Regions from separate parts of the Homo sapiens genome. Here region 2 is linked to region 1. The links come from fine-mapping of genetic effects on gene expression. A gene starts in region 1. The other region holds a variant in brackets. All regions are shown on one strand. Distances are between the middles of the regions. Region 1 holds the start of HACL2 (2-hydroxyacyl-CoA lyase 2). Region 2 overlaps NOTCH3 (notch receptor 3).

What was found.
Region 2: its variant is fine-mapped to the expression of HACL2 in monocytes (CEDAR, PIP 0.95).

The regions. Positions count from the first base shown.
Region 1 is chr19:15,121,283-15,130,318 of GRCh38, forward strand. HACL2 (2-hydroxyacyl-CoA lyase 2) reads right to left here and starts at 4,504. Exons shown (of 16, transcript NM_006844.5): 1 at 4,374-4,504; 2 at 3,643-3,787; 3 at 2,093-2,294; 4 at 1,834-1,961; 5 at 1,610-1,748; 6 at 1,411-1,522. The coding sequence starts at 3,777. ILVBL-AS1 (ILVBL antisense RNA 1) reads left to right here and starts at 2,878. Exons shown (of 3, transcript NR_186314.1): 1 at 2,878-2,943; 2 at 3,182-3,223; 3 at 4,645-4,892. RefSeq lists enhancers at 3,244-4,009, 4,010-4,773, 4,268-4,357 and silencers at 3,958-4,007, 4,578-4,647.
Region 2 is chr19:15,160,170-15,169,205 of GRCh38, forward strand. It overlaps NOTCH3 (notch receptor 3), which reads right to left. Exons shown (of 33, transcript NM_000435.3): 29 at 7,080-7,242; 30 at 5,618-5,922; 31 at 5,199-5,346; 32 at 2,296-2,393; 33 at 1-1,545. The coding sequence ends at 493. Among named protein-coding and RNA genes, the nearest start is that of MIR6795, 15 kb to the right of the region's middle. The variant ATT/A (reference allele first, on the strand shown) is at 4,383.

The sequences.
Region 1 (9,036 bases):
CAAAATCACTACTGCCTGAGCTGACCCTCAGGCGCTTCACACACATCCGGAGTACAGGAGCCTGACTACCTTGTCCACTGATGATGCCCCGTGCCTGTCCTGGAACCTGGCACATGGCTGCCGCTCGCTAAATGTATGGAAAGGAAGGGCCAAGGACAGGCAAAGGGAAGGGACTGAGGGGAAGGGAGAGAAGGAGGAAGAAGAGGAAGAGGAGGAGGAGAAGAAAGGAAAGGAAGAAGAAGAAGAGAAGAGGCCAGGCGCAGTGGCTCATGTCTGTAATGTTTGAGAGGCCGAGGAGGGTGGATCACTTGAGGTTAAGAGTTCAAGACCAGCCTGGCCAACATGATGAAACCTCGTCTCTACTAAAAATACAAGTATTAGCCAGGTGTGGTGGCGGGCGCCTGTAGTCCCAGCTACTCAGAAGGCTGAGGCAGGAAAATCACTTGAACCCAGGGGGAGGCGGAGGTTGCAGTGAGCCGAGATCACGCCACTGCACTCAAGCCTAGGCAACAGAACGAAGAATCTGTTTCAAAAAAAAAAAAAAAGAAAGAAAAGGACAAAGATGTGAGGGAAGGAAAGGAGGAGGAAGGAGAGGGCTCGAGTCTGGGCTCTGCCACTTTTTTTTTTTTTTTTGAGACGGAGTCTTGCTCTGTCACCCAGGCTGGAGTGCAGTAGCACGATCTTGGCTCACTGCAAGCTCCACCTCCTGGGTTCACGCCATTCTCCTGCCGCAGCCTCCCAAGTAGCTGGGACTACAGGCGCCCGCCACCACGCCCGGCTAATTTTTTTTTTTTTTGTATTTTTAGTAGAGATGGGGTTTCACCATGTTAGCCAGGATGGTCTCGATCTCCTGACCTCGTGATCTGCCCACCTCGGCCTCCCAATGTGCTGGGATTACAAGTGAGAGCCACCGCACCCGGCCTGGGCTCTGCCACTTCTTAGCTGTGTGACTTTGGGCAAGTGACTTCACCTTTCTGAGCTTCCTCCTCTGTAAATGTAAGAATGAACCTCCCTTCCGAGGTTCAAGGATCATCCTTTAGGAGGAGGAAAACGGAGAGGACGATGGGAAAGGTGGTGGGGGAAAGGGAGGAGAAGAGGAAGGAAGAGGGAGGAGGAAGAGGAGGAAGAAGAGATGATGGAGGAGGAGAAGAAAGGGAAAAGGAGGAGGAGGAGGGCTGTCCTGAGCCTCTCCCCTTTGCTGCCTCCACGAGGGCCGCCTTGCTTTCCCTACCCACCCAGTTCATTCCTGCCTCAGGACCTTTGCACATGCTGTTCCTTCTACCTGGAATGCTCTCCCCCCAGCTGTCTCCTCCCAGTCCACATGTGAATCAAAGGAGGATGGGTGTGGGCTGGAAGCTGCAGGAGAGAACGGGGGATAAAGGAGGGAATGGCAGGGGTGGGGCTATTCACCAGGAGACCACTCGGCCCACGAGGCCCTTGGGTGGCTTGGCTGGCACCATCTCCTTCTGGACCATGAAGTAGGGGTACAGCACGTCAACGGGCAGCTCCACAAACACCGGACCTGCAGGGACAGGGAGGACGCTGAGTCCATAACATGTCCCCAGCCCCTCGGCCCCAGCACTGCTCAGCATCACCATCCTCCACCTACCTGGGGTGCCCGACTGGGCGGCAGCCATCGCGGCCCTCAGGGTGGGCACAATGTCCCGCACCCTCCGCACAGACACACAAAACTTACAGAGTGGCCGGAAAAGGGACAGCTGATCAACAGCCTGGAGCGCACCCCGGTTCTGGCAAAGACAGAGGTGTGGCAGGGTTATCGCATGAGCCCTTCAAGCCCCCCTAGGCCCCCACTGGCCCCCAAGGACTGGGTACCTGCAGCAGAGTGCTGGCAGCCCCACCCAGAAGCAGGATTGGGGACTGAGCCATCTGAGCATTCTTCACCGCAGTCACCGTGTTGGTGAGGCCAGGGCCTGCTGTCACTGCCGCCACGCCCACCGTCCCTGGAACACAGAGCCCATCACAGCCATGCCCACTCTCTTGGCCATTCTTCCACCTCTGAAAAACCCCTACCCTCACAGACACTCTAGCCCACAGTCCAACCAGTCCCCAGCCCTCTCTGCAATGCCCTCACCGGACAGGCGGGCCATAGCATCAGCAGCAAAGACGGCCGTGACCTCATGGCGTGTGTCCACCACACGGATGCCCAGTTTCTCACAGGCCACCAGCAGCGGGGAAATGTGCCCACCGACCAGCGTGAAGATGAACCGCACACCATGGGCCCTCAGCACAGCGGCCACGTTCTCTCCGCCATGCCGGACGCTTGCCTTGTCCACCTGGGCCCAAGGACAGGTGGAGCAATAAAGTTAAAGGCCAGGGCAGAGGGCAGCTGGGAAAGGGGGCAATCCCCCTGCCCCAGGTAAGGGGGCAGGAGCAGGGTGAGAGGTCAAGAGAAGCTTGGTCTTGGTTAGGCATATATTATACTACATGCCAGGCTCAAACCAAGGCATAACATCTTATCAGATCCTCTTGTCATTACATCCCTCTTACAGCTGAGGACATCAAGGCTTGCCCAAGTAAGACTGAAAGTTCAATAGAACCCACGCTCTTAAGTGCCCCACTGTTACACTGCCTGTCTCCAGGATGGCAGGGCAATCAGGGAGAGAGGAGAGGGTTATATAACCCAGGGGGTTTGGCCAGGGGCACAACGCACGCAGAGCAGATGGCAGGGAGCCATCTGCTGTGACTCCTCCCTGCCCTCCAGTATCCTTGCAGAGCCTGGCAGCTGGGCTCCTGATCCCAGCCTCCCTGATGCCCTCCTGATGGACGCTAAACAGGCCCAGGGCTTAGTTGACAGGCTGCCAGCCACCATGTGCCTGGCACGGGAGTGAGCTGCTGGCACAGACTGTGCCGAGGCCTCCCAACTCCAGCTGCCTCACAGCCCTACACATCCAAGGCTTGCTTTAAATCTCCTAAGTCCTGAAGGTCAGTGGCATCACTCCTGGCTAGCAGAGGAAGCAGTAGAGAAGGGTTTGGGGAGGGAGAGGTCAAGCTTGGTCCCTGCTAGGAGAGAAAGGGTTGAGGAAGGGGTCTGGAGAAGGGGTAAATTTCAAACAGAGGTGCAAGGAGTTTAGGGGGACACCTGTGGGGTCAGCTCTCTCCAAACATGTCACCTAGGGCAAACCACCACACAATCTCTCTGAGCCTCAGCTTCCTCTTGCAGAAAATGAAGACAGAAAGAACAGCACCTACTTTCAAGGAAAAGGTAAGGGGTAGGTAAGAAAGTCTACAGTACTGAGCTCAGCAGAGGGCAACTGTTATGAAACTGTCACTGCCACCCCCTCGCTGGAGCCTGCCCTCTGCCCCATTTATCCCATCCAGGTTAGGGAGCACAGAGTGCTGTCCATCTGTTCTGTGAAAAGAGTCACTGGGGAAGGAGGTAGGTGGGGTGCGAGTGCCCCGGCAGCGGCAGCTTCCGTGTTCTCTCTTACCAGTGGCAAAGTCCAGGCCTCCATACACAGCGTGGCAATGGAGACAGGGCCCTGGACAGAACCTCTTACCAGTCCCTCTGGACTAGTCGGGGCTCGCTTTCCCACCCTGCACAATGAGTGAGCTGGAAGCAGCACCACGAGGCCCCTCCCTCTTTGACTGCCCCCAGCCCACCTCCCATTCTGTGCCCCGCACCTTGTGCAGCAGCTGATAGAAGAGCCCCAGGCGGTGAGCGGCGCCCAGCAAGGCGGCCACCAGCGTCCCGCAGGCCAGGAGCAGGAAGGAGGGGAATAAGCTCCCAGCGGGGGCGGCGGCCGCGGGGGTCTCCATGAGGTGGTACCTAAGAGAGAAAGGGCACTTCCCAGACTTGGGCGCGACAGGGAACCTCTCCGGAAGAAATCGCGCCCCTTCTCGCAGCAGGATCCAGGGCCACGACCCTTGCCGCCAGTTTCTGTGCGGCCACGCCCCCAACCCTGCCAGACCACGCCCTTTGTGCGCCTAGGCTCGGGGTGAAGCCATGCCTCTCCGTGACAAGGTCACGCCCCTCGCGGGGCTAGCCCCAGTCCTTTACATCACCACCACTCCCACCCAAACTAGCCACCACAAGTCAAGGTGGCGACGACAGCACCACACAGTTATCTTCCACTTACCTACTTGTCAATGGACAGGCGGAAGCCCCGCCTCTCTTTCCACAACCGGACCCCAAATCTCAGCCCCAGTAGTGAGCCCGCCCCATGTTACGTCACCAAGAGGCACGAGGTCACGCCCCCGGGTTAGCGGGCGCGACCCTCCACGCAACCCACGCCTCTCCCTTAAAGAGCGCACGGGCCCGAGCCTGATCCCCGACCCCGGGCCAGGCTGGGTCGAGGTCACATCGCATCAGGATGTGGTTCTCCCACACCAGCTCGACCCCCGACGCTATTCACCTTCACCTCCAGGATATGGCGCTGCCTCCAGCAGAATTCGGCCCCCTCCGTGTCACGTGACCCGGGAGCGTGGCCGTGCCCGGGTGGCCCACTTGGCTCAGCGGCGCCCCGTAGTCCGGCCCGATGCGCATGCGCACAGTCGGAGCCCCGCTCCGGGGCCACCCGAAAGAGCCTTGCCTCTACTGGCCGCCTCCCTCATAGACCCCGCCTCCCCTTGCCTTTCATTGGCTCGCACTGCAGACCTCACACCCATTTTATGTTTTAAAACCAGGAGGCCACGCCCCTCAGCGGCTTCAGGAGCCCAGACCTTTGGGGGCCCACCTTCCGCAGCTTTCCATTGGCCCCACGGTGGAAGCCCGTAGGTTCAGGCCCTCCGAACACAGCTCGCTTTCCACACCAGCGGGGCCGTACCAGAGCAAGACCATGTCTCACAAAATAATAATAATACTTAAAAAATGGTAAATTTTATGTTATGTATATTTTCCACACTATAAATAAATATTTGTGCATGTATATATATATATGTGTATATTTTTTGTATAATAGGTATAGTAGTAAGCAAAGGAAATTCACACTGAGTCACATTCTACAAAATGCCTAACCAGACCTCTACAAAACTGTCAAGGTCATGAAAAACAAAGACTGAGGCACTGCCACAGACTAGAGGAGGGAAAGGAGCTGTGACAACTAAATTCAATATAGTACCCTGGACTGGATCCAGGAATCAAAAAAAGGACAAATTTGTGGATAAAGTTGGTGAAATCCAAATAAAGTTTGGAGTTGAGTTAGTAGTAATGAACCAGTGTTAATCTTTTTGTTTCAGTAAATGTATTATGGTTATATAAGATGTTAGCATTCAGGGAAGCTGGATAAAGAGTAGACAAAAATTATCTTGCTATCTTTGCAGCTTTTCTGTAAAGCTAAAAAAGAAAAAAAAAGTCTTAATAACAAGGATACAATTTTCCAGAGAGAGAGAAAGATGTTGTAATAGATGTAAATTCTTTCTTGGGAGACAAAGCTTTAACATGCTCCAAGACTAATTATCTGACCAATCTCTCCCCAGATAAAGAAAGATTGTCACTAGGCAAATGTCCAAAAAGCTTCTCAGCCGAAAGCTGGATTATTCAACAGTCCCTGAAACAAATATACACAGAGGACAAGTGATTTTTTTAAAAAGGGAAACAAGCCTGGCATGGTGGTCCATGTGTGTAATCCCAGCACTTTGGGAGGCCAAGACAGGAGGATCGCTTGAGGCCAGGAATTTGAGACCAACCGGGGCCAAAAAGTGAGACCCAGTCTCTCCAAAAAACAAACAAACAAACAAACTTAGCCAGGAGAATCGCTTGAACCCGGGAGGTGGAGGTTGCGGTGAGCTGAGATCACGCCATTGCACTCCAGCCTGGGAAACAGAGCAAGACTCTGTCTAAAAAAAATTTTTTTTAAAAGAAAAAAAATTAGCTGAGTATGGTGGCACGTGCTTGTTATCCCTTTTGCTTGGGAGGTTGAGAAGGGAGGATTGCTTGAACCCAAGAGGTTGTGTCTACAGTGAGCTGTGATCGTGCCACTGCACTCCAGCTGGGGCAACAGAGCAAGACCCTGTCTCTAAAAAAAAGGGGGTGGGTGTGGGGCAGGGGAGGAAACAAATACCATGTATCTAAATTGATCGAAATTTAAAGAGAAGTGCAACAAATTATTGAGTTAGAGGGATACAGTAAGGGCCTCTCTTAGGACAAGCAGAAGGACTCTCTAAGGAGGTGACAGTTGAGCAGAGAGACCAGGAGGAAGTGAGGACATGGGCCCCACAAGGATCTGGAGAAAGAGTAATCCAGGTAGAGAAGATGGCACATGCAAAGGCCCTGAGGTGTTTTATTAATTTCCTTTGATGGCCATAACACATTACCACAAATTGGGTGGCTTGAAACAACAGGAATTAATTCTCTTACACTTCGGGAGGCCAGAAATTCAGCATGGAGGCATCAGTGGGGCCATACACTCTCTCGAGATCTTTGGGGAGGATCCTTACCTTCTCCAACTTCAAGAGGCTCCAGGCATTCTTTGGCTTATGGCTGCGTCACTCCAATTTCTCCGTATATCTTCAGATGGCCTTATTCCCTGTGCCTGCATCTCCTTCTGTATCTTTTTTTTTTTTTTTTTTGAGACGGAGTCTCACTCTTTCGCCCAGGCTGGAGTGCAGTGGCGCAATCTCGGCTCGCTGTAACCTCCACCTCCTAGGTTCAGGCAATTCTCCTGCCTCAGCCTCCTGAGTAGCTGGGATTACAGGCACACACCACAACACCCGGCTAAATTTTTTTGTATTTTTAGTAGAGATGGGGTTTCACCATATTCACCAGAGTGGTCTCGAACTCCTGACCTCAGGCAATCCGCCTGCCTCAGCCTCCCAAAGTGCTGGGATTACAGGCATGAGCCATCGGGCCCGGCCCTCCTCCTCTACGTCTTACAAGGATACTTGTCATTGCATTTAGGGACCACCCTCATCCAGGATAGGCTCATCTTGAGACCCCTCACTTAACTACTTCTGCAAAAACACATTTTCCAAGTTAGGTCACATTTGCACGTTCTGAATGTACATTTTAGGGTCTGTCATTCAACTCATTACAAATGGGATGGGCTTTGCATGTGCAGAGAAAGTCAGGAAAGCCAGGATAGCTAGAAGGAAGAGAGCAGAGGAGGCAGGGAGGAGACGCTATCAAAGGCTGGACAAAGGCCAGACAGGTATGATTTTACAGACTGCATGAGGACTGCAAATTTTATTCTAAGTGAATTGGAAAGCCAGAGAGGATTTTGAACAATATGCAACCACACACAATCTGCACATGATTATTCATAGGTGCTTTAGTTGCAATAGCTGAAAACTGGAAAAAATAACAAAAAACAACAAAAAAAATATCCCTTAAGAGAGGAATGGTTAAACAAACTGTGATTCACCCATACCATGAAACACTGCTCAGCAATAAAGAGGGCAAACTACTAAAACACGACAGGCCAGGTGCAGTGGCTCACGCTTGTAATCCCAGCACTTTGGGAGGCTGAGGCGGGTGGATCACCTGAGGTCAGGTGTTCAAGACCAGCCAGACCAACATGGTGAAACCCCGCTCTACTAAAAATATAAAAAACTAGCTGGGCATGGTGGTGGGTGCCTGTAATCCCAGCTACTCAGGAGGCTGAGGCAGGAGAATCACTTGAACCCGGGAGGCAGAGGTTGCAGTGAGCTGAGATCGTGGCATTGTACTCCAGCCTGGGTAATAAAGCGAGACTCCATCTAAAAAAAAAATATATATATATATGTATGTAGTCAGGCATGGTGGCATGCAGCTGTAGTCCCAGATACTGGAGGCTGAAGCAGGAAGATCTCTTGAGCCCAGGAGTTTGAGGCTGCAGTGAGCCATGATTGTGCAACTGCACTCCAGTCTGGGAGACAGAGCAAGACCCTCTGTCTTGCTAAAAACATAAAATACAACAAAACAGAAAAGCAAAGAAGCACGCAACACTTTGGATGAATCTCAAAATAAGTAGCCTGATTGAAAGAAGCCAATCTTGGCCGGGCGTGGGGCTCATGCCTGTAATCCCAGCACTTTGGAAGGCGGAGGCGGGTGGATGACCTGAGGTCAGGAGTTCGAGACCACCCTGACCAACATGGTGAAACCCCGTCTCTACAAAAAACATAAAAAATTAGCCAGGTGTCGTGGTGGGCGCCTATAATCCCAGCTACTCAGGAGGCTGGGGCAGGAGGATCACTTGAACCCAGGAGACAGAGTTTGCAGTGAGCCAAGATTGTGCCATTGCACTCCAGCCTGAGCAACAAGAGCAAAACTCCGTCTCAAAACAAAAAGAAAGAAGCCAATTTCAAAGGTACCATTAATATGATCCATTTATATGATATTCTCCAAAAGTGACAAAACCATACTATGGGAGGAAAGATCAGTGTTGCCAGGGGTTAGGGAAGGGTGTTAGAATAAAGGGGGTAGCATAGAAGGTTTTGGGGGTGATAGAACTGTTTTGTATTATGGTGGCTGCATGTGTTAAAATTCTAATTATGATAGTGGTTACCTATGTTAAAATTTTTATTGAACTGAACTCTAAAAATTTCAATTTTACTGCATGATCCTTTAAAAACTAAAATTACGTACATATAATTTTATACATATATGTGTAAATAAATAGATAATTATATGCACACACACACCGTCCATAAATAAATAGAATTGTTTAAAGACACACTGGCACCAAACCAAAGTGATCCCTTGAAGTAACCAGAAGATTTGAAAGAGAACTGGAAAAGGGACTCAATTTCTGCCTGTGCAATTCAAAGGTGTCTTTGATGTTACTCGCAGGAAACGCTGCTGTTAAGTGTTTCAAGTCTGGGGAAGCAATGCGCTTACCACACCCTCATATCCTTGTCAATGCTTATTTTTATGAGTTTCGAAGTAAGTATAGAGTCTGGAAATGTCACAGAGGGAAGCGATCATCAATGTCAAGTCCTCTCTTTGATGACTTGTGAGACACAGAGCGGGGTGATCTCTGCAAGTCTCAGCAAGTGGTTCAGTACTAAACTGGTTCCCAGATTTCCTGACTCTTCCCGGTGGGCATGAAATCCCTGTGTTTCTAAACGCTCCTACAGCCTTCGAGAAGGCTCCTAAGGCAC
Region 2 (9,036 bases), 39 kb after region 1:
GGCCGAATGGGCCCACAGACTCAGCCCCACGGGGGCACTGGGGGGTTCACAGGGGGAGGGAGCATCTCCATATATATATTTTGTAAAAAATAATAATAATAAGTTTGTTTAAATGAATTTGTTTCTATACAAAATGTAAAAAAAAAAAGAAAAATAAAAATAATAATAATTCATTCATGTCAGAGTGTAAGGAAATGAGAGGCCAGAAGGAGAGAGAAAGGAATGAGGGAAGAGAGAAGTGGGGAAGAAGGAGGTCCCAGACTCTTCACAAGACTGAGAGGGTGGGTGGTAGCCCCCACCCATTATAAATAAAGGAAGACTGAAGCCCTGGGCTGATGACCTATCTCGGTCACGCTGCAAGGCAAGGATGCAGGAGGGTTGGTGGAAAGAGAAGAGGATGAAAAAGACTAAAAGGAAGGAAGAGACAGAGAAAGAAAGGAGGCAGGACGGGGGTCTCTTTAGGCCCCCAAGATCTAAGAACTGACGAGCGTCTCAGGCCAACACTTGCCTCTTGGGGGTAACTTCCGGCTGGGGCCCCAGCTGGGTCTGGGCCTGAGCAAGGGAGCTGGGAACAGACAAGGGAAGTGGCTGGGCAGGCAGTGCCCCAGTGGTGGTGGCCATGGCCCCAGTGGCAGTGGCTGGGCTAGGCGTGGATTCGGACCAGTCTGAGAGGGAGGGAGGTGAGGGGCTGGCCCAGTGCTCAGGGGATTCGGGGGATGGGGTCAGGTAAGGGTGCTCACTGGGAACCCGCAGGAAGCGGGCCTTTGGGGGGCTGCTGTGTGCCCCAGCCGCCGGGTACTCCTCGCCATGTCCTGGGACTGCCAGGTAAGGCGGGGGCCGCTCCTGCGGGGAGACGGGGGTCCCTGGGTTGAGCAGCTGGGGTCCCGGCGCCAGTGGCAGCAGGAACGAGGGGCCTGGAGGGGCAGGTGGGGGCAGCCGGGCCCAATCGAGGGGCACAGCCACAGGGTTCAGCAGGCCCAGGCTGAGTACACATCCTCCAGGGGGCTGGCGCCCTAGACCCGCCCGGCCTGGGCCACCAAGCTGTGCCAGAGACACTGCAGTGGCAGTGGCAGCTGCATAGGGCCCCTCAAGGGGGAAGCCACCAGGGGAAGCAGGGGGCCCACCGAAAGGCCGCGGGGAGTCCAGCGAGTCCACGGGCGACAGCGTGACCGAGCTGTCAGCCAGGGGGCCCGGGCAGGCCAGCGTCAGCTTCTTGCCCCGCCCCCGGGGCCCCTGCGGCCCCAGCCCCGCCTTCCCGGGGGGCCTCCTGCTCTTCTTGGACCCCGACTGTGCCGCTTTGAGGCCAGGGAGGAAGGCCCCTGGAGGACAGAGCAGAGGCCCCAGGCCGTGGGGACCGGGGGGGCTGCGGGGCCCACTGGGTTGATCCAGCAAGCGCACGATGTCCTGGTGCAGTCTCTCCTGGGCTACGTCCCGCGGCAGCCTGTCCAGGTGGTCGGTGATCTCACGGTTGGCAAAGTGGTCCAACAGCAGCTTGGCAGCCTCATAGCTGCCCTCGCGGGCGGCCAGGAATAGGGGGGTCTCCTCCTGGGGGGCCAGAACCCACAGAGGTCAGCGAAACCCCAGCTAACAGTAGCAAAGTCTTCCAGCCTCTTGGGGGAGCCCGAGAGCTATGAGTTTGTACACTGGAGCTTGACAGACCTGGGTTAAATCCCGGCTGTGCTGGGGGAGCCTGGACAAGTTCTTTCCTCTAAACCACATTCATCCATCACCTACTAAGTGCCAGAGGTCAAGGCCAGGACTAGGGTGAGTTAAGCGAGGTACTCACCTTAGGCATAACTTTTTTTTTCTTGTCTTTTTTTTTTTTTTTTTTTGACAGAGTCTCACTGTGTCGCCCAGGCTGGAGTGCAGTGGCGCCATTTCAGTTCACTGCAACCTCAGCCTTCCGGGTTCAAGCGATTCTCCTGCCTCAGCCTCCCGAGCAGCTGGGACTACAGGTGTGCACCACTACGCCCAGCTAATTTTTGTATTTTTAATAGAGACAGGGTTTTACTACGTTGGCCAGGCTGGTCTCAAACTCCTGAACTCAAGTAATCCACCCATCTCGACCTCCCAAAGTGCTGGGATTATAGGCATGAACCACCACACCCAGCCATTAGGCACAAAATTTAAGGGGCCCCCAAAAACTTTAGTCACCAAAGTAAATTATATTTTAATCCAATGTTTGGGGTTTTATTTTGTTTTGTTTTTTGAGAGAGTCTCACTCTGTTGCCCAGGCTGGATTGCAATGGCACTGTGCCACTGCTGACACCCAGTGGACCAAGGGCTGGGGCTCACCTTGCTATCCTGCATGTCCTTATTGGCTCCATTTTTGAGCAGGGCCAAAGTGGCTTCCACGTTGTTCACAGCCGCAGCCCAGTGTAAGGCTGATTTCCCTGGAGGATGAAGGGGAGAGAGGTCAGGACCAGGCACCTGTCCTGGGGCCCCCATGTCAGGGAGGCAGAAATTGTCTAGAATGTGGCCTAGGGGTAGAGGAGGCAGGCCTGCCGTGAATATCCAAGTACTTGTGTCTGGATCCATGTGTGTGCAAATCTGCAAAATGACTCTGTGCAATGGGGAAGCACTTTGTGTCTGTGTGTGTGTGTTTGTGTGTGTGTGTGTGTGTGCGTGCATGTGCATGACTGTTTATACACAGGGGGTGCTGTGTGGACCTCCTTCAGTTGAACCTAGGGTTGTGACATCCAATACAGTAGTCAGTCACATGTGGTTTTTATTTATCCATTTATTTATTTTTGAGGTAGTGTCTTGTTCTGTCACCCAGGCTGGAGTCCATTGGCACAATCTCAGTTCACTGCAACCTCTACCTGCTGGGCTCAGGCGATTTTCCTGCCTCAGCCTCCCTAGTAGCTGGGACTACAGGCATGTACCACCATGCCCAGCTGATTTTTTGTATTTTTGATAGAGATAGAGTTCCACTATGTTGCCCAAACTGGTCTCAAACTCCTAAGCTCAAGTGATCCACCAGCCTTGGCCTCCCAAAGTGTTGGGATTACAGGCATGAGCCACCGTGCCCAACCTACATGTGGTTCTTTAGATTTAAATTTAATAAAATAGGTGCCAGGACCATTCAATGGGGAAAGAATGGTCTTCTCAACTAATGGTGCTGGAACAACTGAATATTCACATTCAAAGAATGAAGTTGGACCCCTACCTCACACTTTATACAAACACTAACTCAAAATGGATCAGAAACCTAAATATATGAGCTCCAACTATAGAACTAAACATCTAGAAGAAAACATAAGAGTAAATCTTCATGACCTTGAATTAGGCCAAGATTCTTAGATGTGACACCAAAACCACAAATAACAATAACAACTACAAAACAGATAAATTGGACATGATCAAAATTGAAACTTTTGGCCAGGCACAGTGGCTCACGCCTATAATCTCAACAATTTGGGAGGCCAAGGTGGGAGTATTGCTTAAGGCCAGGAGTTTGAGATCAGCCTGGGCAACAAAGTGAGACCCCATTTCCACAAAAAATTTAAGAATTACCCAGGTATGCTGGCACACACCTGTAATACCAGCTATTCAGGAGGGTGGGATGGGAGGATCACTTGAGCCTGGGAGTTTGAGGCTGCAGAGAGCCGTAATCATGCCACTGCACTCCAGCCTGAGTGACAGAGTGATACCCTATGTCTAAAAATAAAAGAAAAAAAAAGTGGTCCATCGACACAATGGATTATTATTCAGCTGAACTATGCTACAACATGGGTGAACCTTGAGAACATAATGCTAACTGAAAAAAAGGCAGACAAAAAAGACCACGTATCATATGATTACATTTATATGAAATGTCCAGAACAGGCAAATCCATGAAGACAAAAAGCAAATCAGTGGTTGCACAGGGCTGGACAGATGAGGGGCTTGGCAGATGATGGCCAAGTGGTGAGAATTTATTTTTCAGGTGATGAAATGTTCTAAAATTGATTGTGGTAATAGTTGTATGACTCTGATTATACTAAGAGCCATTGAATTGTACACTTTAAATGGGTGAATTGTATGGCATGTTAATTATATCTCAATAAAGCAGTTTTTTGTTTTTTGTTTTTTGTTTTTAAAAAAAAGGATGGACTCAGTGGCTCATGCCTATAACCCCAGCACTTTGGGAGGCCAAGGCAGGTGGATCACCTGAGGTCAGGAGTTTGAGGCCAGCCTGGCCAACATTGCGAAACCCCGTCTCTACTAAAAATACAAAAAAATAGCCAGGCATGGTGATGGGCACCTTTAGTCCCAGACACTTGGGAGGCTGAGACAGGAGAATCACTGGAACCTGGGTAGTGGAGGTTGCAGTGAGCCAAGATCACACCATTGCACTCCAGCCTGGGTGACAAGAGTGAGACTCTGTCTCAAAAAAAAAA[ATT/A]AAAAAAAGGGCAACATAAGGAGAAAAAAATTAAATGAACTAAAACATTTACTTCTTCATTTGCCTCAGTCACATTTCAAGTCACTATATGTGGCCAGTGGCTACTATACTGGACAGTGCAGAGAATAATTCCATCATCACAGAAAGTCCTATTGGCCAGCCCTGCCCTAGAACTGTGGCTCTCAACTAGGAGAAACTCCCTGCCCCCAGCCCCCAGAGCATTTGGCAACGTCTGGAGACTGTTTTTTTTTTTTGAGATGGAGTCTGTCCCCCAGGCTGGAGTGCAGGGGCACAATCACGGCTCACAGACTCAACCTCCTGGGCTCAAACGACCCTCCCACCTCAGTTTCTGGAGTAGCTAGGGCCACAGGTATGCACCACCGCACATGGCTAATCTTTCAAAAAACTTTTGTAGAACCCACTATGTTGCCCAGTCTGGTCTCAAACTCCTGGCCTCAAGTCATCCTCCTGCCTCAGCCTCCCAAAGTGTTGGGATCACAGGCATGAGCCACCACACATGGCCTGATGTGTACGTTTATTATAATAACTTCCAGCAGGTGGAAGTACAGTGTGTCCGTCTAACAAAGCAGGTGGAAATGAAGTATCTAGGGGAAAGGCACCTTTTTCTAAATCCCTGAGGCACCCTAAGGACTAGTGGTGACCCTGCATGACCCTGCAGGCTTCATGAAGCCTGGTTATGTGTGCGTGAGCTTCAGTGATTGGGTCTCAACATGGGTATGAATTTGCACCAACATGACCCTCAGGGCCCAGGTGACACCAACCCAGCTTAGACTTGATTCCTCTGCCAACCTACCAAGCTCATCCACAGCATTGACATCAGCATGGCTGGCGATGAGCTCTTCCACCATGCCCTCTACTGCCAGGCGGGCCGCCAGGATCAGTGCCGTTGAGCCATCTGCCATGCGGGCATCCAAGTCTGTAGAGCGGTTTCGGATGAGAATCTAGGACAGAGAGTGGATGCAGCAGGAGGGGTCATGGCAGGAACAGAGGAATCAGGAGCACCCCTAAGTCCCATGAAGTCCCCAACCCCCATACCCCAACCCCTGAAATTGGTGAGGTTCAGGGAGCAGCTGCTTGACAGATACTGTATTCCCATATATCCCCATTTTCCAAATGAGAAAAAATGAGTCTGAAAGGCAGAACTGGGGCTCAAACCCAGGTAAGTCTAATGCCTGCCCCAGCTCTGAGGTCCAAAGTGTGTGCCTATCTCACCTGGAAGACACCCTGGGCATCGGCTGTGACAGCTGTGTGCAGGGGAGTGCGGCCTGAGTGGTCCTGGGCATTGGTGTCTGCCCCAGCATCCAGCAGCCGCTTGGCTGCATCAGCACGGGCATAACGGGCAGCCAGGTGCAAAGCAGTCTCGCCAGTACGGTCAGTCCGTGCCCCAAGCTGAGCCCCCTGGCAGATCAGGTCGGAGATGATGCTAGCTGATGTGTCATCTGCCTCATCCTCTTCAGTTGGCATTGGCTCCAGAGCCCCCCCACAGAAGGAAGCCAGCATTAGCGGGGTGAAGCCATCTGCAGGGACAGGAGTGTGTCAGCAGGAAGGTAAACACAGGGCCTTTTCCAGGAAATGTTATCAAGGGTACCCCATTAGGAGCTAATGGGACACATGGAAAAATGACAATTAGCAGATCCTCCTGTCTGCACACCCACACCCAGAATGAGGATTCGTGGGCACGTGATTTGTCACAGAACTACTCCTAGGGCACAGGGAACACAGGACAAGGGACTCTGGGAGTCAAGCAAGTGTGCAACCTCCAGTAAATTCCCAAAGGGTTATTCCACCTTGATCCTCCAAAGGGACTCTGGAACATGTGTTGTACCCCAGAGTTCTAATCCAACTCAAGGCAAAGAAACCATCCCCTTCATACTCCTGCACCCACTGGTTAGGAGCTGCCCCTTTCTGCCAATTCATTTGAGTGTTTTAAAAGGGGGGGGGAAAAAAAGAGCTGCCCCCAGGGACATAAAATCCCAGGCACTTCAGGCCCCAGCAGCCAGAGGGACTTCAAAAGAGAGCCATAAGTACAGGCCATTTGGAGCATAAGCAAAATGAAGCTAAGGCAGGAATGCCCTGAAACATAACAAAGATGGATCTAAGAGGATCAAACAACATAGTCCGCTACACTGCACACACTGTACACAAGCACTTGTCCTCATTTTTCTTAGGGAGCCACTTGCATCCGGTTCTCCATTCTCAAGCCCTGGGTAGAGACTGACCTCCCCGCTCCACCAGCAGACCCGACCCCCACCAGCTCAAAGACAGGTATGTGAATCAGGCTTGGTCAATTTGCATATTCCAGCCCCCTGGTCATACTGATTGGCTCAAGGATGAGCACGTGACCCTAGTCTGTCCAATCAGAATGCATCCTGAGACTTTTCTGGAGCATTAAGAAGGTTTTGTAAGATTGGAGTCAAAGGGTAGAGAGGGGAAAACTGAGTCCTGGATCCAAATGTGCCACTTTTAGTTAAATGAGTTGATAAATCCCTTGTTTTACTTAAGCTAGTCTGAGTTGGACCTTTGTCACTTCCAACCAAGAGTGTTGCTGAATACACACACCCTTCACAGAAGCTTAGAGACTCCCCCAGTTCTCCCCAAAACACAGAGTCAGAAATAACCTCTCACAGGTAGGATGGGTGAGGGGCATCCCTTTGGGAGGGGCACTGTCACTAACCTGGGCCACGCACATTGACATCCATGCCATCAGCATCTGCGTCGCCCTGTGGTGGTGTCAGTGCCATGGCTGGTGCCACGCGGATGTCAGCAGCAACCAGATGGTGTTGAGTCCACTGACGGCAATCCACAGCCTCCTCAGCCCCCATGCCTGGCTCCTCTACCTGGAGGGGCAGGCACCCTGGATCTCAGATCTCACCCTTTGGTGCTGGGGAGAGCCACTGCCAGGGATGGGGCTGGGCATTCCTACAGGTTTCTCTTTAGGAGATACACACAGAGCCCTGGGAAATCATTTACCATCTGTTTGGTGTTTTATTTGTTTTTGAGACAGAGTCTCGCTCTGTCCCCCAGGCTGGAGTGCAGTGGCATGATCTCAGCTCACTGCAACCCCCGCCTCCCGGGTTCAAGTGATTCTCCTGCCTCAGCCTCTGGAGTAGCTGGGATTACAGGCACATGCCACGGTGTCCAGCTAATTTTTTGTATTTTTAGTAGAGAAGGGGTTTCACCATGTTGGCCAGGCTGGTCTCGAACTCCTGACCTCAGGTGATCAGCCCCTCTCAGCCTCCCAAAGTGCTGAGATTAACAGGAAATCAATGTGTGCCATAGCCCAAGGAGGTAATAAAAGGAAGACACAAGGTTTCTTTTTTTTTTTTTTTTTGGTCTTTTTGAGTAATAAATGGCTTTAATTATTTATGTATATATTTTTTAGAGACTGAGTCTCACTGTGTCACTCAGGCTGGAGTGCAGTGCTGCAATCATACCTCACTGCAGCCTCAACTTCCTGGGCTCAAATGATCCTCCCACCTCAGCGGCCCAAGTAGCTGGGACTATAAGCACACAGTATAAGCAGATTGGGATAGCATCTGATCCAGGTTCAAGTTCCAACCCCACCCCTTAGTAGCTGGAAGGCTCTGGGCAAATCACTTTGAAGCTCTGAGCTTCTCATTGGCAAAATCAGGATGACGCAGCCATTCCACCATGCTAAGATACCACCACAATTACATTGGGCCACCCCTTTAATACCTCTAATACCTACTTTGGGATGGGAAGGCAGAAGGAAAAGTCTGGGTTGAGCAGGTTTTTTTATCTGTCCACTGTAATAGATGATTCCATTTCACAACATTAAAATATGGACAGAGGAAGGGAGTTTGTAAATTGAAGTATATGTCAATAGCTACTTTACAGCGTCCTCAGAGAGATGAAATAAGATGTTTTATGTGCATTAGAGACATTCAGCGGGTGCCTCAGTAATGCTAGCAGGATCTGTATGGACTCAATTGTGCCCCCTCTAAAAATCATACAATGGCCGGGCACGGTGGCTCACGTCTGTAATCCCAGCACTTTGGGATGCCGAGGCGGGTGGATCACTTGAGGTCTGCAGCTTGAGACCAGCCTGGCCAACATGGTGAAACCCCATCTCTACTAAAAATACAAAAATTAGCCGGGCATGGTAGCACATGCCTATAATCCCAGCTACTCGGGAGGCTGAGGCAGGGGAATCACTTGAACCTGGGAGGTGGAGGCTGCAATGAGCCAAGATCACGCCACTGCACTCCAGCTTGGGCAACAGAGTGAGACCTGGTCTCAAAAAATAAATAAATAAATAAACAGAAATCATACACTAAAACCCTAAATAATATATAAAATTTCCATGTGCCTGCATTTGAAGATAGGACTTTATTTTTAGACAGGGTCTTGCTCTGTTACCCAGGCTGGAGTGAAGTGATGCAGTCATAGCTCACTGCAGGCTCCAACTCCTGGACTCAAGTGATCCTCCTGCCTCAGCCTCCCAAGTAGCTGAAATTACTGGTGCAAGCTACCAAGCCTGGTGAGATAGGGCCTTTAAGGAGGTAATTAAGGTTATATGAGGTTATAAATGTGGGACCCTAATCCAATAGGATTGGTATCCTTACAAGAAGAGGATGGGATGTCAAATCTGTCTCTCTCTCTCTCTCTCT